Linked DNA regions of Homo sapiens. The protein of the gene in region 6 purifies or fractionates together with the protein of the main gene of each other region. This does not show direct contact. Each region holds a gene or a part of one and is shown on either strand. Other genes may lie near its edges.

Region 1 (4,171 bases), on a different chromosome or scaffold from region 6:
AGGTGCCCTGTGGGCATTTGCCTCTGTGACAGAAGTCCACTCAAGCCAGCCATTGTAGCTAGCATCGGGGCTCCAGCCATCAGTGAGGGCAGCCAGGGCCGGTCCTCGGCCTGCCCCAGATGGCACATTGATGGGGGCTGTGTGGACTTACAGCTGGGAGGGGCTGCTGGGCATGCCCAGGTGGGGCTCTTCCAGTGAGGCAGCGATGCTGAGGCTGAAGGACGAGGCCGCCTATCAGAGGCCCAGAGGAGAAGGAGGGTAGGCAGGGGGCAGAAAGGGGCCCCAGGGGGAGGAGTGGGAGATGGTCCATGGGTGCTTCTCTGAAGGGGGCAAGCTGGACAGGGTGGGAGTGGACGCTGGATCACCTGGGCAGGGCAGTGGTCTGACCTGGGTGGGGAGCGAGGGATGGGTGGGGCATCTCGCCCAGTGGGAGAAAGGCTGGCATGGCAAGCACCAGGACCCCCGGCTGGGGCAACGAAGACCCCAGTGCCTGGCCCCTGAGGGGCCTTGAGGCCTACGGGCAAGGAAGTGGGTGGGAGCTCCTACACCCAGGCAGTTCCCGGAACTGCAAGTCCCTGCCCAGCACTCAGCCCAGGGTCGCTGGGGACAGACCGCTTGCGGGAAGCCCATCAACCCTGAGCGTGCTGACCCTAGCCACTCATTTCCATGATGTGTCTCTTCCGCCTGGGTTTGCTGAGTGTCTAGAATCTTCTGGAACTTCCCACAAGCTCTCGGCATGCAGAGGGGAGCATCCATCTGCTCTGGGCCCCACGTGGCTGCATCAAGCCTCTGGGTGCACTGAGCCTCCCCTGGGCCTGGGCCTGGGCCTGGGCCCATCTTCTGTCATCAAAAGTCCCTGGTGTTGGAAACCTCAGCTGGCTCAAGGGGACAGGCAGGGAGGACAGGATATCCATCAGCTTCCCTGCAGCTGGGGACCCAGCCTGGCCACTTCCATGGGCCTCCCGGGGCAGCAGGGCCTGCCTTTCCCTCTGCCCTGGTGGCGGGACACTGGGGCTCACCCCAGCAGGACCCGCCCACTCACGCCTCTTCATTGTTGAGCACATCCAGGAGGCTGGCGATGAGCACATCCTTGGGCAGCGCCTGGCTCCGTTCCACAGCCTCCAGGAAGAGCTGCTTCCCAAAGCACAGCTTCCTCCAGGGAGTCTCCAGCAGCGCGTTGCTCAGCCCGTAGGTGCCTGTGAGGAGCAATCAGCGGGCCATGCAGAGGCCCTGCTGTGCCATGTCAGGGCAAATTGCCACCTGCCACCCACCTAACACGGGGTACAGCTGGGGACCATGAAATCAGGCCAGACTGAGGCCAAGCCGCTCCATGCTCCAGCTCCTTCCCCATGCTCATTCCTGACCTGATGGCATGGCAAGGAGAGGAGAACTCAGCAGTAGGCGGAAGCGGGCACCCACAGGAGACCACAAGGCACAGATGCCCAGCAGCCTCGATGGATGGATGAATAAGAAATGAGCAACCTGAGATCTCACAGGCAAAGGGGACAGCCAAGAGGGAACCTCTTCACCTCACGCCAGGTTGGGGGGCCACCTGAGAAGTTCAAGAGTGGGAGAATTAGCCACCAGAGGCCAGGAGGCACCCACCACAATCATGTCCCTGTTTGGGGAACCCCCAACAGCGCCACACAGTGGGCACAGGTGTAGGCTGGGCCTCAGCAGAGCATGGCCCACCTCTGCGTACCAGCCAGGCCCCAGGTTAGGAGAGCCGGGGGGCTCTGCACAGACTCTGAACAAGCTCCCAGAGTGTTGGCAGAAGGCATGGCCAACAGGAAAAGGGTTTCTCATGTCACAGAAAGTGAAGGGCAGGGACTTGAGGTGGAGAAGCACCTCACCTCAGAGGCTCTTCTCTAGAGGCCAGGGCAGCAGGGGTGGGCTTGATGGGAGCCAAGCACCCCAAATGATGCACCAGGGAGACCAAGACACCACCCTCTCCCTGTCAGACTTCCAGGAGAATATCTTGGCCGAGGCATTTCCCAGGGAGACAGCCTGGCTCTGCTGGGGCCCCCAGAGCCAAGCCGCCAGCCCCAGGTGTCACAGTGCTTTTTCCATCATGAACAACATGGAAGACCATTGAACTGCATAGTCATGGGCAAAGAAGGGAGTTGGACTCTACCTGACACCATACACAAAAGTTAACTCAGGTCAAGAGAGGTGGCTCACTCCTATAATCCCAGCACATCGGGAGGCTGGGGCAGGAGGATCACTGGAGCCCAGGAGTTCAAGACCAGCCTCGGCAAAATAGCAAAATAGTGAGGCCTTATCTCTACAAAACATAAAAGTTAGCTGAACATGGTGGCACACATCTGCAGTCCCAGCTACTTGGGAGGGAGGATCTCTTTTTTTTTTTTTTTTTTTTGAGACGGAGTCTTACTCTGTCGCCCAGGCTGGAGTGCGGTGGCGCAATCTCGGCTCACTGCAAGCTCCACCTCCCGGGTTCACGCCATTCTCCTGTCTCAGCCTCCCACGTAGCTGGGACTACAGGCACCCGCCACCACGCCTGGATAATTTTTTGTATTTTTAGTAGAGACGGGGTTTCACCGGTTTAGCCAGGATGGTCTCGATCTCCTGACCTTGTGATCCACCCGCCTTGGCCTCCCAAAGTGCTGGGATTACAGGCGTGAGCCACCGCGCCCGGCTGGGAGGATCTCTTAAGCCCAGGAGGTTGACAGTGCAGTGGGCCATGACTGCACCACTGCACTCCAGCCTGGGTGACAGAGCCAGACCCTGTCTCAAAAAAAAAAAAATAGTTAACTTAAGTCAAACCAAAGACCTAAGTGAAAGAGCAAAAGCTATAAAACTCTAAGAAGAAAGTATTGGGGAAAGCTTCATGACCTTAGATTAGGCAATGGTTTCTTAGATAAGAAACCAAAAGCATGAGCAACAAAAGAAAAAAAAAGAGAGAGACATAGGACTTAAAAATTTTAAGCTTTGTGCTTTAAATAAGAGACTTGTAGCTAGAATGAATGTATAAGTCACTCCTATAACTCAAAAAGACAACCCAGTCTGAATAACCATTTCTCCAAAGAAGACATACAAATGGCCAACGAGCATGAGAATAGCTGCTCAACATCATAGCCATCAGAGAAACGCAAACCAAACCACGAGTCCACACAACTTCACACCCACTATCGTGGCTATCATCAAAAACACAGAACATAGCAAGTTTTGGTGAGGATTCAGAGAAGCTGCAACCCGCATACACTGCTGGTGGGAATGTATAATGCTGCGGCTGCTTTGGCAAACAGTTTGGATGTTCCTCAAAAGGTTAAACAGGGTTACCATACGACTTAACAACTCCATTCCTACGTATTCACATGAGAGCCATAAAAACATATGACCACACAAATGCTGTGAGGTCACACTGTGAGCAGCACTGTTTCCAACAGCCAAAAGGTGGAAAAAACTCAAGTGTCCATTAATGGATAAAGGGAAGAAACAAAAAGTACCAACTGGCTCGAGGGTTCAGGGCAGCTGTCTCAGCAACTCCCTAAATTCCTACAGCTACAAGAAAAACCACAGTCTTGATAAACTCCCTCACAACAGTAGAGATCACACACGTTATCAGACCCTCCTAACTCTTGACAGCCCAGACCACCACAACCCTGACTGGACAGAGAACCAGCCTTCAAACACTCTTTTCTGATAAGCAACTACAGACCATAAGCCAGTTTCAGCAGTTCATAGAGGCTGCACTCCAACTGTGTCCTAGAGCTCACCTTCTGATGGAAAGATCCAGATTCTACCTCATTTTAATGCTAAAACCCTGCCCCAAAGTGAACATGGGATGTATGTTACATGTATGTTTATCTATTGCATATGTTCTCGGGTCCCCTCATAAATATGTATGGCTTTTCCCCAAACCTGCTGAATATGTATGACTCTATTGTGTGATATGGACCTTGGGAGGCATAAAACTCAAACTGCCCTTCCCCTCTTCAAAGAGAGCACCTCAGTCCATGCTAGAGACTCTCTCTTCCGGGTCTGCAAACTGATATGGCAAATAAAACTCTCCTTTCTATCATTTAGCCATGCTGGTGAGTTTTTCTTTGTTTTTTTTTTTTTTGAGATGCAATCTCACTCTGTCGCCCAGGCTGGAGTACAGTGGCGCGATCTCAGCTCACTGCAAGCTCCGCCTCCTGTGTTCACGCCA
Region 2 (4,171 bases), on a different chromosome or scaffold from region 6:
AAAGCCTAATTATAGAATTTGTGTGAGGGAGCTCAATCATGTTAAATCCTATATAAATTAAGGTTATATTTTATAGTTGCCTGTCTGTGCCTTTTCACCTTTAAGTCATTTGCTAGTAAGAGAAATGCTTAAGAAAGGTGAGTAAACAGATGTATTTATAAAAATAGTTATTAATTACTGATATCTCTCAGTGAGGTACATAGCTTTCACATAGAGATACTGTTAGTACAGTTTTACCCTGAAATCTACTCAGGTGCAAAATTGCTTTGGTTATGAAACACATTACTTGTGAGTCATCACTGCACTTAGTGATTTTCTGACCCCCTACAACGTAGTAGAAGCAAAATGTTAATGTACCTTGACTTCCATTTGGGAGTGTCCTCTGCTTGATATGTTAAATTCATTATAAAGAAATGTTTATAGTAAAAGCATTACTTTCGAAACATAGAACTGTAGATGTTGCATAATGAATAAAACTGATAGCTTTCAGGATTAAGAAATATATTTTTGCCTATTTATTTCTGGTACAGGCTTCTAAAAAAGATTTTTAAAATTGTCTTCTTGATGAGGATATTTTGAGTGACATAGACCCGTCCTTCAATTCTTGATGGTAAACTTTCTGAAGAGCAATTTTTAAGCTCTATGAGGAACTTACAAAGTATTCATACCTTTTTAGGAATCTAAGTTCACAAAATAAACTGAAGTGTTAGAAAGATTTATTTCCTATTATTTTTGGTACAGTGTTATGCATACTAGAGAAAAATGGAGAAAAACGCATGTTCAACATTAGTGGGATAGTTAAGTAAATTGTGGTACATTCATATGAGGGTCTCTTATTTAGTCATTTAAAATGTTTGCAGGTACTTTTTAGGATATAAGGTAATGTTATAACGGCCAAAAGTTAGAATACAGAATTTTCTATGCAGTATGATCTCAAGCTATTTAAAAAGCTCAGAAAAAGTAATAGAAGGAAATAAGCCAAAATGACATTAGCAGTTGTGGTTTATGAGAACGAGCATTGTTTTTCCTGCCTCCTTTTGTTACTTTTAAGATTTCCCCCCCATTATAAGTGGGAAACGTCTAAAACAGTAAAAAACATTCCATAGTTTTGAAAATCAAAGGAACCACATCTGTTAAGTTTTGAACTTGTAAATCTCTACTGTCTACTCTTCTAATATCCTGATTCTGGTTGTATAAGAACAGTAAGCACCATTACATTGAAAGAAAAGTATGAAAATAGGTTATGTATGAATTTGCACAGCTCCTGTTTATCAGCATTGTCTAATCATATTCACTGGTACCCTTAAACATCAAACTTTAAAAATTTAAAACTATGCTTGATATATCTCCCTAGTAAATGTTACATATTTCTCTGCCATATTAAAACATTGTAATCAATAGAGTTTAACATTTCTTGTTCAACTTATGTGTATTTTAAGGATGCATTATTATACTGCACTGTAATACAGTGATGCTGTAAGACAAGTGCTGGCACACTTTCCCTGAAAGGCCAAATAGTAAATATTTTCAGCTTTTGGGGTTCTCTAGTCACTACTACAACTTCTCAGTTCAGTGGTGGTAGCAAAATAGCTGCAAACAATAGGTAAATAGATGTGGCAGTCTTCCAATAAAACTTTATTTACAAAAAGAGGAGGTCCCTGCTGTAGTTTGCGTAGCCCTACACTAAAATATATTTATTGGTAAGTTCTCTCATGCCTTGATTGGTTCTGCTTTAACCAGTACTCTTAAGGGTGGGTTTGTTCTTTTGTGGATTTTTGTATCTTGTATCAGTTGACTGTTCTTCATGTCTCTACTTTAGCTATCCTCCTTCACTCTTACCTTCTGTATCCAGTTCTGCTTAGCTTTTTCAAAAAATTGTGGTTAAATATACATAACATAAAAATTACCACTTTAACCATTTTTAAGTTCCCTAGTTCAGTGGCATTAAATACTTCTGTTAGTTTTAGAACCCAGATGAATATGCTAATGTGTAAAATAAAAGTATGTAAGTTGTGAGTGAATAAAGTTTATGATCTCACTTTAGTGTAGTGATTTGGAGGACATCTATTTTTAGCAACTCAAAAACTGAGAATTAAGCTTGGAAGTAACTTTAAAGAACATTTAATTCCAGCTCATTTTACGTATTATATAAGCTGCCCGCAGATATTAAATGACCTAAACAAGTTCAGACAGTATTAGGACTTGTTTTGATTTTTTATTTTTCATCTATTAGCAGCAAACTAATTCAATTTATAGAGTTAATTTTTTTAGATTGAGGATTATAAGAGATCTTACAAACCCTTCTCCCCAGCTGCTGCTTTCTTCTCTTCTGTTACATACTCCCTATAGGTTGTTGTTATTCATCTCTACCTGAATACTGCCTTCACAAGGGAGTTCACTCCCTTAGAAGGCAGCCCATTCCGTTTTCATAGCTGTTTCATTTTTCCTTATGTGTGGCTGAAGTTTTTCATTAACTTCTACCTATATATGTTAGTTATTCTGAACAAGTTGTCTATAGTGGTATCAGAGTGATTGCAGTGACAGAATTCATATAGTATCTGTATTATTCCATCTAGACTGATATATTAAAGGATACTTGGCTGAAGAAATGAGTTATTGGAAAAACTAACAGAGTTGGATGTTATAGACTTGATCTCCCCAGATCCTAGTCTTCCCACCCGAGACAGCCAGACTGCCTTTTGGGTCAAACTTCTGAAGTTGTGCAAACGTATGGACAAATTACCATGAGCTGACAGGGGCAGCCTGACCATTTCCTCACATAAAGTGGCTTTTGTGCTTTTTACTTTGGTGTGCTATTAAATGAATTTGTGCTATAAAGTCCAGTCAAAACAGCAGCACTAATTGAATATAATCTCATCTTTGCTTTGACAGGATGCAGTTTTATCAAGGCAGACCAGTTTAGTTCTCTTATGTGCATTTTGGTTAGAAATTTATTATTGTTTAAGAATTACAGATATTATTCCTAAAATAGAGTGCTAACCACTGAGAGCATGAGGTGGCAGAGCAGGAAGAGTCTGGAACTGGGAACAAAGGATGAGCTTTGTAGGACTAATTCTGGTCCAGCCACTTAAGATTTATGTGACATTGGACATTCTGCTTGACTTGGATACTCTTAAAACAAAATTTTTTTTAAATTTAAAATTTAAATTAACATTTTCTTTCTTTTTTTAGAAATGGAATCTTGCTGTGTCACCCAGGCTGGAGTACATTGGTGCCATTATAGCTCACTGCAGCCTTGAACTCCTGGGCTCAAGCAGTCCTCTTGCCTCAGTCTCCCAAGTAGCTGGGACTGTAGGTGCATGCCACCACACTCTTCTAGGACTCTCTTTTATCTGTACACTGGGGACAATTAACCCACCTTAATTTACCTCATAGGGTTTTAATATGATAGAAAGTGAGAGTCCTTTTTTAGCAGTAAAGCCTTAAAAGATGTAAGTTTTTATTTTTAAATTCAACCAATGATTAGCCTTGGGGCAAAATCACTTGGATGATAACTAGAATTTGTCAATTTGTTAGACTTAACATTCATTCTCATATGCTATTTTACTATATGGTCAGCCACCATCAATTCAACTTTCTATCTAACAGGTTTATTAATCTGCCAGTTTGCTGGTGTTGATAGACGGTTGTTATCAGTCAGCTCACTATAAATTCAAAATGATACACTGATTTTAAAACAACCCTGAATTATCATCTGAAGGATCATTATTCTTAAATGAAGGCATAAAGACTAGCAAATCCTTTTGTATTGTGTTATTATTAGGCCTCATTTTTTTTAATCCCACTTGAAAAGACAGTTTTTCATTGTCTCATAGGTTTACCATACTATACTATGTGTTTTAAGAGTTATGCGAAAAAAAAAATAAGAAAGACTTGACCCCAGCCTTGAAGCTTTATAGTTTGGGGAGGTTAGGTAATATGAAATGTTATTTAACAAAATAAGACCATACAGTTGGTTTCAATTATTTTCCTCTGTTCATTTTGTAGTTCTTAGTAAGGATTTTTTTTTTATTTTCTTCCTTTCATTTGATAGTTTTTTATTTATAAGATTTTTGAACTGATGAAGATGAGTTTGCCTTGTTGCTCCTAATTACAGATTAGAAACTTTCTTGATTTCCCCTACCGATTAAGGCAAAATTAAATACTTCAT
Region 3 (3,298 bases), on a different chromosome or scaffold from region 6:
CTGCTAGTGGTCTGTTTCCTGAAGCCCGTAACTCAGGAACTCCTGAAAGTATAAACTGGTTTGGTTTTTTGTTTTTAGTTGTTATTGTTGTTGTTTTCAGACAAGGTCTCACTCTGTTGCCCAGACTGGAGTGCAGTGGTGCAATCACGACTCACTGCAGCCTCAACCTCCTGGGCTCAAGAGATCCTCCCGCCTCAGCCTCCCTAGTAACTGGGACTACAGGCATGCGTTACCATACTCGGCTAATTTTTGTATTTTTTGTACAGACAGGGCTTCGCCATGTTGCCCCGGCTGGTCTCAAACTCCTGAGTTCAAGTGATCCTCCTGCCTTGGCTTCCCAAAGTGCTGGGTTTACAGGCATATGAGCCACCACACCCGGCACAAACTGGTTTTGAATATGAACGGAATAAAGATTTTCAAGGAAAACAAATTTTCATTTAGTATTCAGAACTCATCTTTAAAGTCTTCCATGTGATTTTCAACCATGATAGGCAAATATGGGCTTTAAAAAGAAGGAAGAGGAAAGTGACCAGTGGTTCTGAGCCCTTGTTTTAAAAAGTCAATCACAGGTAAGTGAGCAAATGGACAAGAGATTTAAGTAATTTTCAAAGTTGGGGCATTTGCTATTTTATCAGTGTCTCAGAAGGCTGTCCAAAGGCTATAGATTTAAACAAATAACATGGAGTCCTCGAGATACTGGCATTTCCATTTTTAAGGGTAAACATCTGAAAATGATGATGTTCAAATTAAGAGTCTGGTAGCAGTTTACAGTTACATATGGAGTCGAAAGAAAGAAAATACCATCTCTGTTCTTACGTACAGATTATTTATTGTAAAAATGTAAGCAATTACAAATTGATCTGTTGTGAAATCAGTGCTGAATTAACATTAATGTAACTCCAGTGAAAAAAATGAATTTGATCAATTATTATCAGGAATAAACATTAAGCCATGACGGTGCTCAAGTTATCTTCTGATGACACTGCTGTATTAAATGTACTTTTCCTATGAGAACCTTAGAAAAATAAAAATTTCTGAGTAGATCATCTTTATCTTTTCTTTTTATATATTTATAGCCATATTTTAATATAATAGGCCATGAGGTGATATGTAAACATACATAATTTCAACAAATTTTGTCAAATAAAATCATATTTCTAGCTAGAAACTTGCCTTCTAATCATTTTAAATGAATAATCCAATCATCCGTCAAAACAAATTTTTTTTTTAAATGACTGTTAAATCCTAACCTTCATTTTCCCCTGGGGAAATAGCATTAAAATTGTTACACAATCTGCTATAGAAAGTGGGATTCTCTATTTTGAAGCCACTAGCTTGCATTTGCACATCTAGCACAGGAGAATCTTCATCCAGTGATGAGCGGGTTACACGGATGAACGCTAAGCTTCGCTGCACAGGTGCAGGGCCCCGGCCTCACAGATTTGCCTTCTCCCTTGCCGCCAAGTGAGATCCGGACTGCACAAAGGTGTGAATCGCATTCTGTTTTAAAAGAACAAGATGAGCAGGTTAATCACCTCATGGGCAGCAACGTGATATTTACTCAGTTTTAATATGTATGCAAATGAAAATAATAATTCAGAATTCATTCACTTTAACTGTCTTAAATTGCCCAGCGCTAAAATGAAGAGTATGTGTTTTGCCAGTGAATTCTTTATCTCTCAAATGAATTTCTGCACAGCTGCCTAAGAAATCTAACAGTGGCAGGTAATGGCCCCTGCAGACTGTAATGCTAAGTGGTAACTAAGTCATGCCTACTCCAACCCAGCACACACAGCCTCTGCATGGCCAGGCTGCTCCCAGCTTACCTTAGGCTTCTCAGCATTGTACTTGTCCAGAAGAGCCTGGATGTGGCTCCCGTAGTCAGGGTGGACCTCAGTGAAGTTCTTGACCTAAGGCCAAAGGAAAATAAATGCAAGCATTACTCTAACTCCCTACTATATCACTCCCCAGGGACTGTGGTTTCCCAGTGTTTATTCCATAGGGGAGGAAAGACGTTTCAGCAGGAGGCAGTACTACAGGTGTTTAACAATGCCAGCCTCAGAGTTAAGATGCAGGTCCAGTGAACACTCTGACATATACTGGCTGAGCAACCTCGGATAGGTCACTTAACTTACTGAGCTTATGTCCCTCTGCCGAAATGCGCAAGAAAATGACACCTAATCAGTATAATTTTAAAAATACTATTTGGTCTTTGTCCCCCATTCCTGACACAGATCTAAAACCCTTCGAATGTACTGTCTTTTATATACTACTAAGATGATTCATGGGGGCCTACATAGATTCCTGATGGAGGCTCACACCAGGAAGAACAAGCACGCGATCAGAAGGTTAGAACTTCTAGCCCCACCCCCAAACCTCCAGGGATGGGAGAGGGGCTGGAGATTGTATTCAATCACCCATAGCCAATAATTTCATCAATCATGCCTATGTCATAAAACCTCCAGAAAAACCCACAACTGGCAAGGTCAGGGAGTGTCTGGATTAGTGCACACATCCAGGAGCTAGAAGGGTGGTCCACTCAGGGAGGCACAGAAGCTCCGAGGCCTTCCCCCATGCCCCTCTTCCATTTGTCTATTCCTGAGTTGTATTCTTTATAATAAATTGGTAATCATAAGTAAATCATTTTCCTGAGTTCTATGAGTCTTTCCAGCAAATTATCAAACCTGAGGAAAGGGTTTGATTTGCAGTCAGAATCTGCAGAAGTGTGCATAGCCAGGGTACCTCATTTGTTATCTAAAGTGGGAAATGACCCCTAAATCTTTGGGTTCTGACTCTAGCTCCAGGAGCTACTGTTAGAATTGAATTGAGTTATAGGACACACAGTTACTGTCAAAGAATTACAGAATTGCTTATTGTCGGGGAAAAAAACCCATACAACCTAGGCCAGGCGCAGTGGCTCACGCCCGAAATCCCAGCACTTTGGGAGGCCAAGATGGGTGGATCACCTGAGGTCAGTAGTTCAAGACCAGCCTGGTTAACATGGCAAAACCCCATCTCTACTAAAAACACAAAAATTAGTCGGGCATGGTGGGGCATGCCTGTAGTCCAAGCTACTGGGGAGGCTGAGGCAGGAAAATCTCTTGAACCCAGGAGGCAGAGGTTGCAGTGAGCCGAGATCATGCCACTGCAGTCCAGCCTGGGTGACAGAACAAGACTCCATCTTAAAAAAAAAAAACCCACACAACCTACCTCACAGGATGCTGTGAGAAAAATGCTGAGAAGTGAGGTGCATTTACTGCATGAAAAGAGCTGACCTCAGAGTAAGCGCTTAACAAAT
Region 4 (4,171 bases), on a different chromosome or scaffold from region 6:
CTCCTGACCTCAGGTAATCTGCCTGCCTTGACCTCTCAATGTGTTGGGATTATAGGCATGAGGCAACACGCCCGGCAAACAATCTTTTTTTTTTATGAGAAGGAGTTTCACTCTTGTTGCCCAGGCTGGAGTGCAATGTCATGATCTTGGCTCATCGCAACCTCCGCCTCCCGGGTTCAAGCATTTCTCCTGCCTCAGTGTCCCGAGTAGCTGGGATTACAGACGTGTGCCACCATGCTTGGCTAATTTTTTTTTTTTTTGTATTTTTAGTAGAGATGGGGTTTCTCCATGTTGGTCAGGCTGGTCTTGAACTCCCAACGTGAGGTGATCTACCCGCCTCGGCCTCCCAAAGTGCTGGGATTACAGGCGTGAGCCACTGCACCCAGCAATCTCCTTTTTTTAACAGTAAAATTTTTATCTCCTCCTTAAACTACTTACTTGAAGGTGTAAGTGCGAAGAGGAAGTCATATTATAGGGGAAGAAAAGAATGTTTAGCATTTTTGAGGCCTCAGAGTGACATAGATACCTCATATGCCATGCAGAGGAATGGTCTTATCAGTAAACAGAGCGTGCTGTGGTGGTGAGTTCTGACCCAGTGTAGATGAACATCCATGGATAGCACAACCCCCAGGCACAGACTCTCAGGCCTGGGAAATGACAACTGAGAAGGTGGAGGGTGGGTGGAAGGCTTGGGAGTATAAATGCAGACACAGGAATAGAAGTGACACAGAAACAGCCAGGCATGGTGGCTCCCAGCACTTTGGGAGGCTGAGGTGGGCAGATGACTTGAGGTCAGGAGTTTGAGACCAGCCTGGCCAACATGGTGAAAACCTGTCTCTACTAAAAATACAAAAATTAGCCGGGTGTGGTGGCAGGTGCCTGTAATCCCAGCTACTGGGGAGGCTGAGGCAGAATTGCTTGAACCCGGGAGGCGGAGGTTGCAGTGAGCCAAGATCACACTACTGCACTCCAGCTTTGATGACAGAGCAAGACTCTGTCTCCAAAAAAAAAAAAAAAAAAATACAGACACACACACGCAAAACAAAACAAAATCAGCCACTGCACTCCAGCCTGGGTGACAGAGTGAGACTTTGTCTCAAAAACTAAACTAAAATAAAATAATCTTGTAAGGCAGTTATTACTATACCCATTTTGTAGGTGAAGAAACTGAGGCTTAGAGTTTACATAACCTGTCAATGGTTTCTCTGCTGGTAAATAAAAAGTCAGGATTCAGACTCATACCTGTCTGATTCTAAGCCTTTGCCCTTCCTAGGGCAATTCTTCCTTATTGAAAACTTGAATACCAATCTCTGGCCTGCAATCTGTAGACAGTGAAACCCTGCTATCATAACAGGTGTGTGACAAGGCAAAAGCTACCGGTGAACATGTGCAAGCAATATCTCTACCTATCAGGGCAATTTTGACAGGAGTTGAAGAAAACAAGCGCCAAAGAAAGGCACTCTGGAACACACTACCTTTTTTTCCTCTATTTTCAATTTTGTTCAACACACTCACTTTATAACCTGTTATCTACATAAGAGGTCCTCAAAATCACCTCTTCTGTACAACCCTTACTAGAATTACTGGGAGAATGGAGTTCTAAAGAAGCACCAAGGAGATGCTGTCCAGATTTTTTTTCTTTTTTAAAATAGAGACAAGGTCTCACTACGTTGCCCAGGCTGGTCTCAAACTCCTGGGCTTAAGCGATCTTTCCAGCTCGGCCTCCCAAACTGCTGGGACTACAGGTGTGAGCCACCACACCCCGCCCAGATTTTCAGCAAGCATTCGAAGAGGACTAATGTATACCAAAGATTTTTCTATTCCCATATGTGAATGATTTAGGGAGCCTTGGATCACTCTGAGGCCCTACAATGCCTAAAAGGAAAGAACTGGCTCTTGGTGCAGTAGATCCAGAACACAGTGTGGCTCTGTGAAAGACACTGACAGCCAGGACACCCATGCTTCACGGATTTCCCATCTGAAGCTGCCACTGGAGAAACTACGCAAATCCCTGTGTGGGTGTCTGAGCTCTCTCACCTTGAACCACACAGTGGGATGTGTGACTGATAGAGGCGGGTCTGCCTTGGCTCTCATCCAAGAAAGAAGGTTTTTTTATATCTAGTAGAAGCAAGTCACTCATTGCTAGATGTTTCAGAAAGCCTTGTTACACAGGTCCACAATCCCACAGCAGAAACTCTTGGGGGTCAGACATGTTTTCAATATGAAAATATGTCAGATTTTAGAAAGGTGTTATGGGGAACATACCATATATTATGCAATACCTCTAGGGAGGTCCAAGGCAACACCCATAATCAAGTATGTTAGTATTTCTCCAGTGAAACATGAACATTCACAGTAAATGGGATAAAGACTAACGTAGACTCATAGCAGCTCCAACAAGGTTCTGTCATCAAGTGATTTCAGATCAAGCTGGGTTTTTCTGTCAAATGACTTGTGAAAAACAAAAATGTCTAGGTTTCAGAGTTTATTAGATTTCTGTAGTGCATGAAAGGACCGTGGACCTGTTATAATGCCTCTTGCTTGTATCTTTAATAAGGTAATAAAAAATAATAGTAGCTAACATTTATTAAGACTTACGGTGCTAAGCCCTATTCCAGGCCTACGCTAAGCCTGTGCACACCACCATCTCATTTAATGCAGGCATTCACAAAACACCTGCTTAGAGTAGGAACTCTTTTTTTTTTTTTTTTTTTGGTAGAGGTGAGGTCTTGTTATGTTGCCTAGGCTGGTCTCAAACTCCTGGCTTCAAGCAATCCTCCTGCCTCGACCTCCCAAAGTGAGTGCTGGGATTACAGGTGTGAGCCACCACACTCAGCCAAGTAGGAACTCTTATTATAACCATTGTGATGATTTATTTTATGTGTCAATTTGCACAGGTTACTGTACCCAGTTATTCAATCAAATACTCACCTAGATATTGCTGTGCATCTACAATCAATTGGCTTTATATAAGGAAATAATCCCAGATAATCTGGGTGGGCCTAATCTCATAATCGAAAGACCTTAACAAGGCTGGGTACAGTGGCTTACGCCTGTAATCCCAGTACTTTGGAAGGCTGAGACGGGTGGATCACGAGGTCAGGAGTCCAAGACTAGCCTGGCCAAGATGGTGAAACCCTGTCTCTACTAAAAATACCAAAAGTAGCTGGGCATGGTGGTGGGCGCCTGTAATCCCAGCTACTCGGGAGGCTGAGGTAGAGAACTGCTTGAACATGGGAGGCGGAGGTTGCAGTGAGCTGAGATCACACCACTGCACTCCAGCCTGGGAAACAGAGCAAGACTCCGTCTCAAAAAAAAAAAAAAAAAAAAAGACCCATGGGCTACAGCATCTGCTCCTGCCTGAGGGCTTCCAGCCTGCCCCTTCTGATAGCCTGCTCTATGTATTTCCAATTTGCCCAGCCAGCCCCCGCTATCGTGTAAACCAATCCTTATGATAAACCATTTATCTATCTATATATAGTTGACCCTTGAACAACACAGGTTTGAACTGCATGGGTCCACTTATATGTGGGTTTTCTTCCACCTCTGCCACCCCTGAGATAGCAACACCAACCACTCCTCTTCCTTCTCAGGATGCAGACCTTTATAATGATCCACTTTCACTTAATAGTAAATATATTTTCTCTTCTTTATGATTTTCTTAGTAACACTTTCTTTTGTCTAGCTTACATTACTGTAAGAATTCAGTATATAATACATTTACAAAATACGTGGTAATCGACTATGTTCTTGGGTCTTGTGGTCAACAGTAGGCTATTAGTAATTAAGTTTTGAGCCAGGCATGGAGGCTCACACGTGTATTCCCAGCACTTTGGGAAACTGAGGTGGAAGAGTTGCTTGAGCCCAGGAGTTTGACACCAGCCTGGGCAACACAGGAAGACCCCATCTCTACAGAAAATTTAAAAAATAGCCAGGTGTGGTGGTGCACACCTGTAATGCCAGTAACTGGGAAGGCTGAGGTAGGAGGACTGCTTGAGCCCAGGAGGAGGCTGTAGTGAGCTGTGTTCCTGCCACTGCACTCCAGGCTTAGCAATAGAGTGAGACCCTGTCTCAAAAAAAAAAAAAAAAAAGGAAAAAAACTGTAGTTTTGGGGGTAGTCAAAAGTTATACATGGCTGGGTGCACACCTGTAATACTAGCGGCTTGGGAGG
Region 5 (4,171 bases), on a different chromosome or scaffold from region 6:
AATTATATAATTATATAATGTATAAATACATAATATAAATATATAAATATATATAATCATGTTAGATATAATTATACATTAATTATATTAATAATATAATTAGATATATCTTATATGCATATTATATATTATTAGATATATCTACGTATGGAAGAAATAAAGCAAATGGAGAAAATGTTACCAACTGGAGAATCTAGGTGAAGTGGATACAATACACTTCTTGCAACATTTCTATCGGCTTGAAAATTTTCGCAATTAAAAAGTTTTTTTTTAATTTTAAGAACACATTTCTGGAAATAACCTGAGTCAACATAGGGTGCTATGCCTTATTGAGCATCTGTACTGCTAAACACATATACCACAATTGCAAACATCACATTTAATCCTCAATTCATGGAGGAATTAGGAGATAGATAGGGCATATTACCCTATTTTTAAAATAAGGAAACTTAAGCCTAAGAAATACTTTGCCTTAAAAACTTACTATATATCTCACCTATGGATAAAAAAACTAACTCGAGAGGAAAAAGAACAATACCCAGAGGTGTGAAATAAAAATCAGCTCTAGATGATAACACTGTGTACTATTTTTCTTTCTAGTTGTATTGATTTTTCAGATTTCCACCTAAAAAAATCGAATTTATGCTCAAAAAATACAACTTAAAATGTTTAAAAAAGTAAATAATTTTACAGTAAGGCACAAAAGAGATCTTTCTAGAATTTAATAAACTTAGTTATTCTAAGTTATCCAACTATTTGGATTCCCAGGTTTCATGATTGCAAAAGGCAGGAATGGGATGTGAATGGGCAGACAGTAATTCAGTTCTTGGTTTCTTTTCCTTTGATTTGTTTACAATGGAATATTTGCATGTTTTCTCCAAGGACGTTGTACCTTCTTGCTGGCCAAGACATCCAGGTCACAGCAGATTCGGGCACGTGTGGAAGAAGGTTGGATGATGTCATCCACAAACCCTGGTGAAGCACAGAAAAGGGAGTGGATCATCTGCATCCCGAGATGATGCCACCCCTCAACCTTCTGCTCAGCCTGGGCACCATCCCTGGGGCCAGCAGTATAAGCAGTGCCCAACCTGATACAGAGATGGTAGGCCCTGTGAATTCCCCCTTGTATCCCAGGAGCTGGCCTGTTCTGACAGCTCCCCAACTTCTGGCCTAGGAGCACTTGGCAAGAAAAGGAAAATCGGACACCCTCCCTATACCCTGCTTGCTCCAATGCCTCCATCCTGCCACAATGAATTCAATAGGAAATAAAGAAAATACATCTAGGTTTTCAAAAATGGCTATAACAATTCATCCTTGTACACAAGTCCTGCAATGTGACTTTACCACTTCTCTCTTCAAGAGGTGGATTTGTATTCCTTCGCTTAACCTTGTTGAGTTTTCTTGGCCTATAAAATGTGGCAAAAATGACACTGTGCAACTTCCAAATCTAGGCCTCAGTTTCCCTTTGCCCCCTTGCTACTCTCGGGACACCATGTAAGGAAGCCTGGACTAGCCTCCTCAAGGGTGAGAGGCCACGTGGGGAGTGAGTCTAGCTAACAGCAACTACCAAGTAAGTGACGCCATTTTGGACTGTCAAGCCCCGGTCAAGCCACAGAATGACTATACCTGTGTGGGTGATCCCAGGCAAGACCAGCACAAGAACCACTCAGCTGGGCCCAGACCAAATTGTGGACCCCACAGAACCATAAGCAGTGGGGGAAACGGTGGTTAGTTTAAGCTGTTGAGTTATAGGGTGAATTTCTGCACAGCACTAGACAACTGGAACAACACCTAGAAATTTAATACACTTTGGCAATGTTGTTTTAATTGTGGTTACCAAAGCAGCCTGTCCCACAGTCCTTAGTCCAAGTGATGACTGCCCAGGGACAGTCCCAACCCTCACTAGTCAACAGATTAGACTGCAAAGGCAAAAAGGCAGTTATGTGACAATTTCTGTAGAGAAAGAATGAGCAAGTTGACCAAACAAACAAAGCTGCCCTCTTCACCACAGTCCCCTACCTCGCACTGCTGCAGGGAAAGGGTTGGCAAACTTCTCGATGTACTCTGCCTGAGCAGCTTCCACATTCTCATGCCCTTTGAAGATGATCTCCACAGCGCCCTGTGATTAGAGGAGTTCATGAACATCTTTGGTCGTCCCAACCTGGACAGATCTCCTTCAACTCATTATCACTGTGTGTGGGTGCAAATTTCTTGGTAAATCAGTGTACTGAGGGGAAGTGCCATCTCTAAAGGCCATAGCATAGAGGGAGGAACTGCCTGGGGCTGACCATCATGACACAAGGGGCTGCATGATGGGATGTGATGCTTCCCTGTGGCCCCAATAAGGGGCAGTCAGGCAAAAGCCAGTAGCTTCTCTCCCCAGAGCCCATTCTACCATCTCCATTTGCACTCATCATATTTCTTTGAGCCAAAGATGTTAGCCCTGTTTTCCATTATTAAATCCATGGTCTTGTATCAAGGGGAATTAAATGTGCTATTTCCCTTTTTCGGTACCCTAAGACCTGAGTATACAATTCGGTGGCCAGAGGCGACCAGACTGAACTGGAAATTAGAAGGATTGGCCTTCAAGTCAGAGCACCTATAAGTCAACTCTAGGGGACCTGGAAGTTATCTGATTCGACCACAATAGCTACTTCAAAGCAGGGAGGAGTGAGGAATAGGTCAAGCAATAGGAAGTACCTTGTCCAACGTCACTAGGGTCGGACCTACAGTTTAGCTTCTTATGAGCTTAAAAGAGTAGCTCTGGGGCCCTCCCTGGAAGCTGAGGTGGAGCTGGGAGAATGTCCAATACTTCTGAAGGTGACTTCAGTTGACTCAACCCTTTGCCCCCTTTACTTACAATCTCAAAACCACTCTGGACCCCTCTCACTTTCCTTTCACCTGCCGCACCCACCTTGGCATGAAGACACCAGCGTGGGCCTGAAGAAAGGGTATAGGACAGGAGGCAGAGCTATCTCTGGAGCCCCAAGAGGGAGACTTACCAAGGTCTAGGTCCCATTCACCTCAGTCCTGGCTCAACCTAGGGGCCCTGGCCTCTCTCCAACATTTCCCAGCTATGCCTTGAGCTCTCGCTGGTAGAGTCGAGTCCTTGGACCCAGAAAGGGAAAAGCAAGAGGCCCTCACCTTTGCTCCCATGACTGCAATCTCTGCGGTGGGCCAGGCATAGTTGGTATCACCACAAAGGTGCTTAGAGCTCATGACATCATAGGCACCTCCATAGGCCTAAAACAGATCCAAATGCTGAGTGTTAGAGCCTGAGACAGCCAGATCATGTCCCTGAAAGACCCCAGGAAACCAGGTAAAATTGGGACAAAGAACAAGAATAGCCCTACTGGGCTCCTGAAGGCCCACGGTCTGTAAGACCTTTCAAAGTTAATGCTCATTATCTTTTCTGGCTTTTTCCCACTACTGCCTTCAGTTCCCCTGTGTTAAAAAAGCACAGACATTTCTGCGGGGCTGGGAACAACATCCTCAAGAGATCTTTTTAAGGATGAGCAAGGTGTACTCCTTCCAGCCCTGGTAAAACTCTGCCAGACCTCCCACCACGGCTATGCTGTAGGAAAGTGAGCAGGGTCATGGCCTCCAACATGAGGTCCTCACCTTCCTGGTGATGACTGTGACTTTGGGTACAGTTGCCTCAGCAAATGCGTAGAGAAGCTTGGCACCATGCCGGATGATGCCCCCGTATTCCTGTGCTGTGCCTAGACATGAGGAAGAGTTACTAGATACCCACAAGTCCTCACATGGTTATCCTGCCACTCTCAGCTGTGAGGTCTTTCCCACCTCTGGAGAGGGCCATTCCTTACACAGCCCTATCTTCTGGACACCCAGAATACATGGAGAAGTCACAAGTCCTCGGGGAGTTCTGCAAGAAGATCTCCAAATAAAGTGGGCACCTTACTGGGAAAGGCAACTCTCCTAGCCCCCACTCTGTCAAAAACTTACCAGGTAGAAAGCCAGGGACATCAACAAAAGTGATGAGTGGAATATTGAATGCATCACAGAATCTGACAAAACGAGCCCCTTTCACAGATGAATTAATATCCAAGCATCCTAGAAAGAGAGAGATTATCCATACTGAGTATCCAGGCAATTCCCAGTTCTATCCACAATGGGGATTTGTCCTCAGCAGCCATCCAAAGCTGGTTTC
Region 6 (4,171 bases):
CTGCCTTTCCCTGGTGCAGGCTGCAACCAATTAATATTTTAGAGAAACAGTTAACAACTGCCTGACCATCACCTGATGTTTGCCTGTCATTCCTGGTGTGTGTTGAGGGAGGGGAGCCCTCTTCTGCCCTGCTCATGCCTGACTAGCTACCTACTGTAACAGAAGGAGTAATATTTGATATTGAATGGTCAGGGAAGATCTCTCTGGTGGGTAACAGTTCAGCACAGATCTGAATGAAGTGAGGGAAGAGATCAAGTAGACCTCTAGGGAGGAGCACTGAAGGCATAAAAAGCACAGGTGTGCAGAGGAAAGAACATACATGGCATGTCTGAGAAACAGCAAGGAGGCCAGGATGGCAGGAGGACACTGATCAAAAGGAAAAGTGGCAAGCAATGAATTCAGAGAGGAGCCCAGTATTAGATCCAGTAGGACCTTACATGCTATGGTACATATTTCAAAAAATTTTTTGAGTGAAATGGAAAGCCACTGGCATTTTCAGCAGAGCTTGTACATTATCTGACTTACATTTTAAAAGGATGAAGGTGATTGCTGTATGGAAAGTAGACTATACAGGGCTAAGGGTGGAAGCAGGGTGAAGAATCAGGAGGTTACAACTGATCAAGGGAAAGATGATGGTGAAACAGAAAGTGAGAAGGGTGGAAGTGGACAGAAGGAATTGTCTTTTGGTACATTTCAAAAAAATATGCTAATGAGTTAGCTGTGGGATAAGAGTAAAAGGTGACAAGAAGAATGCCCAGGTTATGGGTTAGCAACTAAAGAGAGAAACAAGTTCGGTGAGGGTGGGGAGTCAGGAGTTCTGTTTTGTGCTGTTAATCTTGAGTTGTATCTTAAACATTTAGGTAGAAATACAGAGTAGAAAGCTGGATGTGTAAATTCTGAGTTCAAGAAGAGATGCGGCTAATGTTATAAATTGGGGAATCATAAACAGCGTCTAACACTATGGGACCTGATGGGATCACCCAGAGCAACAGCAATGGTCAGCAAACTCTGGCTTTATGGGCCAAATCTGTCACATGGCCTGGTTTTATTTTTGTAAATATAGTTTTATTGGAACATAACCACAGTCATACTTTTACTGTCCATGGCTGTATGTTACAATGGCAGAGCTGAGTAGTTGTGACAGAGACTGAATGGTTCGCAAAACCTAAAGTATTCCTTATCCGGCCCTTTACAGAAAACTTTGCCAACACCTGCCCTAGAGAGGCAGTATAGATAGAGAAGTGGGCTGAGGATTGAGCCCTGGGCATTTCAAAGGCTAGAGTTCGGAAATATGACAAAGGTTCAGCAAGGGAGAATGTGAAGGAGAAGCATCAAAACTAAGACAAAGTGCATCCCAGAGGAAAGCAGTTTCCTCTGGGAAAGACAAAAAAAGTGTTTCAAAGAGAAAGTGATGAACTGTAAAAAGTACTGCTGATAGGTCATATGAGGACTTCAAACTGACCATTAAGGTCGCAGCATGGAGGTGACAGGTAGCCCTGACAAAAAGCAGTTGGTAGAACAGTAGCGATGAAAGCCTAAGTTAGGTGATCCTTGACTATTTGGTTTATATTAAAAAGACTAGAAAAAATCACTGGGAACTCTGTGTTCCCACAGAGATGAATGGGTAGGAGGCTGGCTGTTATGCTGGGGTCCCCAAATACCAGCATGCAGAGTACTGCTGGGGCACCAACACCATCAGGGGTCCTACTTCCCTCTCAGCTCTTCATTCACTTTTACAGTTGGAACTAACACAACCCTCATGCATTAGACCTGCATGGGAAACATTTGTGTACTATTTGTAGTACAACTTAAACTAATCCCCCTGTGTTAAGTTCTACATCCATCTAACTCTCTATCCTATCTTATATCAACACACCCACAACCTCTCTGAGGTTCTGCAGCAGCTCGGCTTTTCCCTAAACTACGTCCCCTGAACACATATACTTAAGCTGGGACTTCTTCCACACTGCTTCATTAATAACCATATCTCCATTGGTTTTTTAATCTTTTATACATATTTCAAAATCTCAAGCTTTGGTGGCTCCTTATCTGTTGTTTTAGGGTTACCCTTTCTTATCCTCACTTACTATCACTTTAATAGGATATTTATTATAGGGGAAAAGAGATAAATGATTGTAGTCACTGTGTCATTTTTGCCATGGTATTTCACTGTCGTCAAAAATCAGATTGTGTCCTTAGGCATTAATTGCTAACCTCTATCAGGCCCATCAATCTACACGATATTGCCAAACAGTGGTCAAAATTCTCCCTTCAACTGGTCTGAAATCAGATTTTATTCTAGCATTTTCTAAGTTATCTATGTGATTCTTTCTCTCACAAGAGCAAGTTGTATCAGGATGAAAGTTTATTACTTACACTAGAGCAAGTGAGAAAATTGAATGGAATGTGAAAACCATACCTAATTTTATGTATCTATACCAGACAGCTAAATGTATGCCATATACCAACATATGATTACACACGACTACAAAACCACTTATAGAGATTCTTACTGGAAGCTTCAGCAATGACTAAAGCTAACTTTGTTTTATTTTCTGATAAAAAGATTAAGAAATGTAAAGGAGCCTAAAAACTTCAATAAAAATGCTTCCTCTGTTCCATATAGATCACACAATTCCTATTTCACAGCACTGATATAGAAAACGTTTAAGGTTTTAAGGACTGAAAAATCAAATAAAATACTTTTTCTATATTCACACAAAACCCATTGTGTTCCATTATATCAGTTGAAGTTCTATGATATAGGCCAACTTTAAAAAGTTACAGAAACTCATATTTAAGACTCAAACAAATTTTGTGGATTATTCACGGGAAGTTCTCTTTTAAGTCCAAAGATACAGCACTTTCAATGGCAGATTCCTCCTACTACCCAAATGACATAAAGAAAACCTACAGTAATTTCAACACAAGCACATGCTTACTATAAGTGACAAAGCAAATTAATTTTAAAGAACTGCTTGGTTCATTCCCAGACTAAATAAAAGCAACTTGAATTATCCACAGCACTATTTCTCTAAGTAAACCAGTTGCCTATCCCATAATAACAAAATTCCTAATTATGGAAAGCATAGCTTTTCCCTATCCTATGAGAACAGTATGAAATCTAAAATAAAATTTCAAGTTATTAACGAAACAAAACAAACAAAAACACGCAAGATATCAAAGGAATACTGGCATGCAGCATTAGGTCTTTGGCTCAATATAAGTGAGTCTAACTTCATTATGATTTCACAGTTAATTTAAAAGACTGCAAGTACCCATTAAAACTTTAAGACCTAGGAAGCCGGGCACAGTGGTGCATGCCTGTAGTCCCAGCTACCCAGGAGACAGAGGTGAGAGGATCGCTTGAGCTGGGGAAGTCAAGGCTGCTGTGAGTCGTGATTGCACACTGTGCTCCAGCTTGGGCAAAAGTATGAGACCCCATCTCTAAACAAACAAACAAACCAAAAAAATAAAAATAAAATGAATAAACAACAACAACAAAAAACCTTCTGAAACCTATAAATTAACAGGAACACTTCAAAATAATCAATCACATCACCTTATTTTCTCCCTTCACAGAATCTAATAATAAGGATTTTAGTCTAATGTCTTAAAGTCAAAAGGGAAAAATAAATAACATTTATTAAATACCTATCACGTGTGAGACACTGATAATTACACACATAGTCTCATTTAACTGCCACAGCAATTCTATAAAATTACTAGTGCTATCCCCATTTTATTTACGGAGAAACTGAGCTACCGGATGTCATCTGAAGGTAAGGGATGCCTCTGGTTAATTCAGTCGAGTGACTTGTCCAAGACGGTAAAGTCAGGACTACAACTTAAGTGGTTTGACTATTAGTTTAGAACTGTTACAGCACAGTTGCTTCTGGAAGTTGCAGAAATCATAACCCTGATGTCACTAAGATGTTAACAAATGTTCTGAGAAATAAGTACTCTGTGGTTCAGTTTTTGGAGAAGTTACATCCGAATTTTCCAGAACTTAAATAGGCAAATTCTTCTTCAAAAAAGTAATAAAATGGGAAGTGTTCTAATTTATTAAACCATGAAACCCTCTGTTTTAACGAAAACCTAATAATATACCATGGGATGCTTGTGTTCAACTAAGCAGTCTGGAAAATGATCATCTGGTCCAATCTCCTCA
Region 7 (4,171 bases), on a different chromosome or scaffold from region 6:
ACTGTACCCTCAAACTCCTGGGTTCAAGCAATCCTCCCACCTCAGCCTCCCAAGTAGTTAGAACTATATGCCACATGCCACCATGCCCAGCTAATTTTTCTATTTTTTTAAAGAGATGGGGCTTTACTATGTTGCTTAATTGTGGCCTCAAGCAATCCTCTCAACTCAGTCTCCCACAGTGGTGGGATTATAGGCGTGAGCCACTGCATCCAGCCCTGACAAGTCATTTACTGTCTCTGTATCTATTTGCTCACCTACAAAACGTGGATAGTAATATTGTTTACCTATAACCTATCATCACCAACAACAAAACCCACCCTACAAATTCAGGTCTCTGAATTTGCACCTCTTTTCTCCCCATAACTGTACAAACGGCACTTAATTAGGTCATATAAGTACCTCCCCAGGATTGATCCTCAGGAATAATTTTGAGCTTCTTTCTGATGGGGCCATTCATGAGCTGGCTTAAGGCATCTCGTTGTAGGTGTCTCACGTGGCGCTGACAAAGACAAACTAAAACCAAACTGGTAGATAGTGAGTCAAAGGGCTGGAAGTAAGGCCAAGAGGACATCTTTTTTTTTTTTTTTTGAGACAGAATCTCTCTCTGTCTCCAGGCTGGAGTGCAGTGGCACGATCTCGGCTCACTGAAACCTCCGCCTCCTGGGTTCAAGCGATTTTCCTGCCTCAGCCTCCCGAGTAGCTGGAACTACAGGCACCCGCCACCATGCCCAGCTCATTTTTGTATTTTTAGTAGAGACAGGGTTTCACCATGTTGGCCAGGATGGTCTCGATCTCTTGTCCTCATGATCCACCCGCCTCAGCCTCCCAAGTGGTGGGATTACAGGTGTGAGCCACCACGCCTGGCCATGAGGACATCTTTACCAAGCTGCTGGGGATGCTGCACAGCAAGAGGGAGGGTTTCAGATTCAGCTGGAAAAGGAAAAGCGTCACCTTGATTCACCCCCAGCGGGAGGAAGGAAGTCAGAAACACATTGAAAGTGGAGAGGCTTTATTATTAGGTTGGTGCACAAGTAACTGCGGTTTTTGCCATTAAAAGTAATGGCAGAATTTCTCAAATTCAATGGCACTCTGGCCTGGGCAACAGAGTGAAACCTTATCTCTTAAAAAAAAAAAGGGAAAAAATAGATTTGTCAAAATTGGTTCAAAATAAGGGGTTGGTAGGGAACTGGGTGGGAAGGGAAATAATGCTTCATTAGTTGTGAGTTAATAATTCTTGAAACCTGTCAAAAACCACAGTTACTTTTGCACCAACCTAATAGTATTGATTATACATTCTATAGACTTGGGGGCCATTGGGATTCTCCAGAACGGCCAAAGAGAATCATCTAGAAAGTGGAACCTAGGGTATCCTGCAGCCTTTATATGCTTCTTGGTTGGCTGAAAGATGACTAAATTCAGTCTTGAACTGATGTTGTAATTTGGTGTATGGAAGCTGGTTTCTAAACTTCAAAAACATCATGCTATGTGACAGAAGCCAGTGCAAAAGACTAACTATTGTGCGATTGTATTTATATAAAATGTTCAGAAAAGGAAAATCTAGAGAGACAGAAGGCAGATGAGTGGTTGCCTGTGGCTGGGAGTGGGAATGAGAACTGTCTGCAAGCAGACACGTGGGATCTCCTTGGGGTGACAGAAATGCTCCATAACTGGATTGTAGTGATGACTGCACAACTCTGGGAATATACTGAAAACCACTTACAGTGAGTTAATTTTATGGTATGCAAATTATATGTTAATAAAGTTTTTTTTTTTTTTAATAAACAGGTTTCTTTTTGCATGGAGGCTGAGGCAGGGACTTTAATAACTTCAAGGTTCACTCACCTAGGTGGCTCTGTGTGAATTCTAGACTCGACTCCATTGTAGACGTGGGAGTGCTTTTAGTTAAGATGTTATAGAAGTTCACCCCATCTGTGTTCTGAAATATAAAAGTTTATTTGGCTGTTTGTTTCATTTTCCTATCATCAAAGCTGCCAAACAGAAGGACACATGGCTCTTTATCTTATCCAAGGACAGGTTTAATTTTGTATATCTGCTTGGATCAGAAAGAAATAGAGCTTTGGCTGGGCCTGGTGGCTCATGTCTGTAATCCCAGCACTTCGGGAGGCTGAGGTGGGTGGATCACTTGAGCCCAGGAGTTCGAGACCGGCCTGGTCAACATGGTGAAACCCCTCTCTACTGAAAACACAAAAATCAGCCGGGCGTGGTGGTGCTCACCTGTAGTCCCAACTACTCTGGAGGCTGAGGCATGAGAATCACTTGAACCCAGGAGGCAGAGGTTGCAGTGAGCCGAGATCGGGCCACTGCACTACAGTGTGGGTGACAGAGCCAGACTTAGTCTCAAAAAAAAATAAAAAAGAAAGAAAGGAAAAAGAGGCCAGGCGCGGTGGCTCACGCCTATAATCCCAGCACTTTGGGAGGCTGAGGTGGGTGGATCACCTAAGGTCAGGAGTTCAAGACCAGCCTGGGCAACACGGTGAAACCCCTTCTCTACTAAAAATACAAAAATTAGCTGGGTGCGGTGGTGCGTGCCAATTATCTCAGCTACTCGGGAGGCTGAGGCAGGGGAATCACTTGAGCCCAGGAGGCAGAGGTTGCAGTGAGCCAAGACTGTGCCATTGCACTCCAGCCTGGGCGAGTGTCTCAAAAATAAATAAATAAATAAATAAATAGAGGAAAAAAGAAAAAGTAAAAAATAAAATAAAGAAAGAAATGCAGCTCTGAAGTCTCAGAAACCAGCTGTGTCAGCCCACTCTCCCTGGAGTGGTGAGCATCTCATATGAGCAGTGATCAGGCCCTGCAGGGAAAAAACCAAGGGCCTAGGTGTTAATTTACAGGGAGAACAGAGCTGCAGAGGGGCCTACACTCCCAAGTCCTTAGCCTACGCATTCTTTCCTTCTGGCTCTCTGGAGTCAGAATGTTGCTTGGCAAGGGTCCCAATAAGGGAATGTGTTTTCTCCACACACTCACCTCTGCAAGACAGTCTTTTTTTTTTTTTTTTTTAATAGAATCCATACATTTAGTGAAGGACAAGCAAGTCTTGCAGGCCTGGGTGGCTTTCTGACTCTGTAAGGAGCCACTACATCACTGCTTAGACCCAAGAGATTTATTATCCAGCATGCAATCATTTGCAGATATGTGGGGAGCCTCAGTGTAGACTCCAAGTTTGACAACACCAACCATGGGCCCTGTACCCACCAGAAAAAGCCAAGCAGGCTCGCCTCTGAGTGTTTCCCCTTTTTACCTGTTCAATGATCATTTCTGCTTTCCCCCACAGCTCTGTGGCCTCTCTGTAGAGCCCCTTATTTACGGCATTCAGTACTTGCTCTGCAACCTTAGACACCTCTGCCAGACCTTTGTCTTCGAGAAGAGACTGGAATGCAAACCAAGAGCAAAAAGACCCACTTTACTTGGGAACGTCAATCTGGTATTGCTGCAGTTAGGGAGGGGTAGGAGAAAGAGGGGAAGGAAGGAGAACGGGAGCTCACATATCAAAGTGTATTGTTACAAGCCACATGTTTATTGGATGAAACACAGCAAATTGTTAACTGAACCTAAGTAGGTATTCACCGTGATCTTTCAACATTTCTGCATATTTGAAAATTTTTGTAATAAAAATTTAGGGCATTGGAAAAATGTGTTTCTTATATCTGGAAAAAAGTGATGTGTGCTGATTTTCTTTCAATTTGTCCCTGAGGCGAGCTCTTGCTTTGGGTCTCCAACTCTATGTGGATGACTAGTCCCTAAAAAGCAGTGTCAACCACATAGGCAAACTCATCCAGCATCTCTTTTCCTGGGGTCACAGCCAGAAGAGATCTGCTGGGCTGTTTGCCCAGAGGGTGCAGATGTGTATCTACTTACCATGCTGTACAGGTAAGGTCCCCAGGAGAGCACCGAATCTAAAGGAAATCACATATGTACAAATCAAGTATGTCATACCTCTGTCTTTCCAAAGACAAACCTACTGTCTTCTCTCTAAAGAAGAAAGAGACAGAAGCAAGAAACCCGGTGGCTTTGGATTGGAAGGCTCCTCAATTCACCTGTACCCATGCAGGAGGCGGGCTGATGTCTCAGTGTCTGGAAGGTGGGATAAGGGTGTGGGGGCCTTTCTGTTGACTCTTAAGACTAATGGCACATTAATTTGGCCTGATAC

Evidence for each region.
Region 1: the proteins of PPA2 (region 6) and TANGO2 fractionate together in Homo sapiens (co-fractionation; one large-scale study listed by BioGRID). This does not show direct contact.
Region 2: the proteins of PPA2 (region 6) and GLS purify together in Homo sapiens (affinity purification with mass spectrometry, with the first as the bait; one large-scale study listed by BioGRID). This does not show direct contact.
Region 3: the proteins of PPA2 (region 6) and CAT fractionate together in Homo sapiens (co-fractionation; one large-scale study listed by BioGRID). This does not show direct contact.
Region 4: the proteins of PPA2 (region 6) and NENF fractionate together in Homo sapiens (co-fractionation; one large-scale study listed by BioGRID). This does not show direct contact.
Region 5: the proteins of PPA2 (region 6) and PCCB purify together in Homo sapiens (affinity purification with mass spectrometry, with the first as the bait; one large-scale study listed by BioGRID). This does not show direct contact.
Region 7: the proteins of PPA2 (region 6) and SCPEP1 fractionate together in Homo sapiens (co-fractionation; one large-scale study listed by BioGRID). This does not show direct contact.

The regions. Positions count from the first base shown.
Region 1 is NC_000022.11:20,058,555-20,062,725, reverse strand, and holds part of TANGO2 (transport and Golgi organization protein 2 homolog), read right to left. Parts: intron 1,553-4,171; coding exon of another isoform or gene 1,491-1,552; exon of another isoform or gene 1,237-1,490; intron 1,231-1,236; coding exon of another isoform or gene 1,197-1,230; coding exon 1,043-1,196; coding exon of another isoform or gene 1,039-1,042; exon of another isoform or gene 1,020-1,038; intron 232-1,019; coding exon of another isoform or gene 152-231; intron 1-151. UniProt on the Homo sapiens protein: May be involved in lipid homeostasis.
Region 2 is NC_000002.12:190,887,011-190,891,181, forward strand, and holds part of GLS (glutaminase kidney isoform, mitochondrial isoform 1 precursor), read left to right. Parts: intron 1-4,171. UniProt on the Homo sapiens protein: Catalyzes the first reaction in the primary pathway for the renal catabolism of glutamine. Plays a role in maintaining acid-base homeostasis. Regulates the levels of the neurotransmitter glutamate, the main excitatory neurotransmitter in the brain.
Region 3 is NC_000011.10:34,469,570-34,472,867, reverse strand, and holds the end of CAT (catalase), read right to left. Parts: intron 1,911-3,298; coding exon 1,827-1,910; intron 1,501-1,826; coding exon 1,435-1,500; 3' UTR 808-1,434; downstream 1-807. UniProt on the Homo sapiens protein: Catalyzes the degradation of hydrogen peroxide (H(2)O(2)) generated by peroxisomal oxidases to water and oxygen, thereby protecting cells from the toxic effects of hydrogen peroxide.
Region 4 is NC_000001.11:212,435,468-212,439,638, reverse strand, and holds part of NENF (neudesin precursor), read right to left. Parts: intron 1-4,171. UniProt on the Homo sapiens protein: Acts as a neurotrophic factor in postnatal mature neurons enhancing neuronal survival. Promotes cell proliferation and neurogenesis in undifferentiated neural progenitor cells at the embryonic stage and inhibits differentiation of astrocytes.
Region 5 is NC_000003.12:136,326,706-136,330,876, reverse strand, and holds the end of PCCB (propionyl-CoA carboxylase beta chain, mitochondrial isoform 1 precursor), read right to left. Parts: intron 4,075-4,171; coding exon 3,967-4,074; intron 3,723-3,966; coding exon 3,622-3,722; intron 3,244-3,621; coding exon 3,145-3,243; intron 2,120-3,144; coding exon 2,020-2,119; intron 973-2,019; coding exon 851-972; 3' UTR 708-850; downstream 1-707. UniProt on the Homo sapiens protein: This is one of the 2 subunits of the biotin-dependent propionyl-CoA carboxylase (PCC), a mitochondrial enzyme involved in the catabolism of odd chain fatty acids, branched-chain amino acids isoleucine, threonine, methionine, and valine and other metabolites.
Region 6 is NC_000004.12:105,467,037-105,471,207, forward strand, and holds part of PPA2 (inorganic pyrophosphatase 2, mitochondrial isoform 1 precursor), read right to left. Parts: intron 1-4,171.
Region 7 is NC_000017.11:56,994,727-56,998,897, reverse strand, and holds part of SCPEP1 (retinoid-inducible serine carboxypeptidase precursor), read right to left. Parts: intron 3,918-4,171; coding exon 3,880-3,917; intron 3,392-3,879; coding exon 3,263-3,391; intron 1,937-3,262; coding exon 1,843-1,936; intron 931-1,842; coding exon of another isoform or gene 839-930; exon of another isoform or gene 514-838; coding exon 400-513; intron 1-399. UniProt on the Homo sapiens protein: May be involved in vascular wall and kidney homeostasis.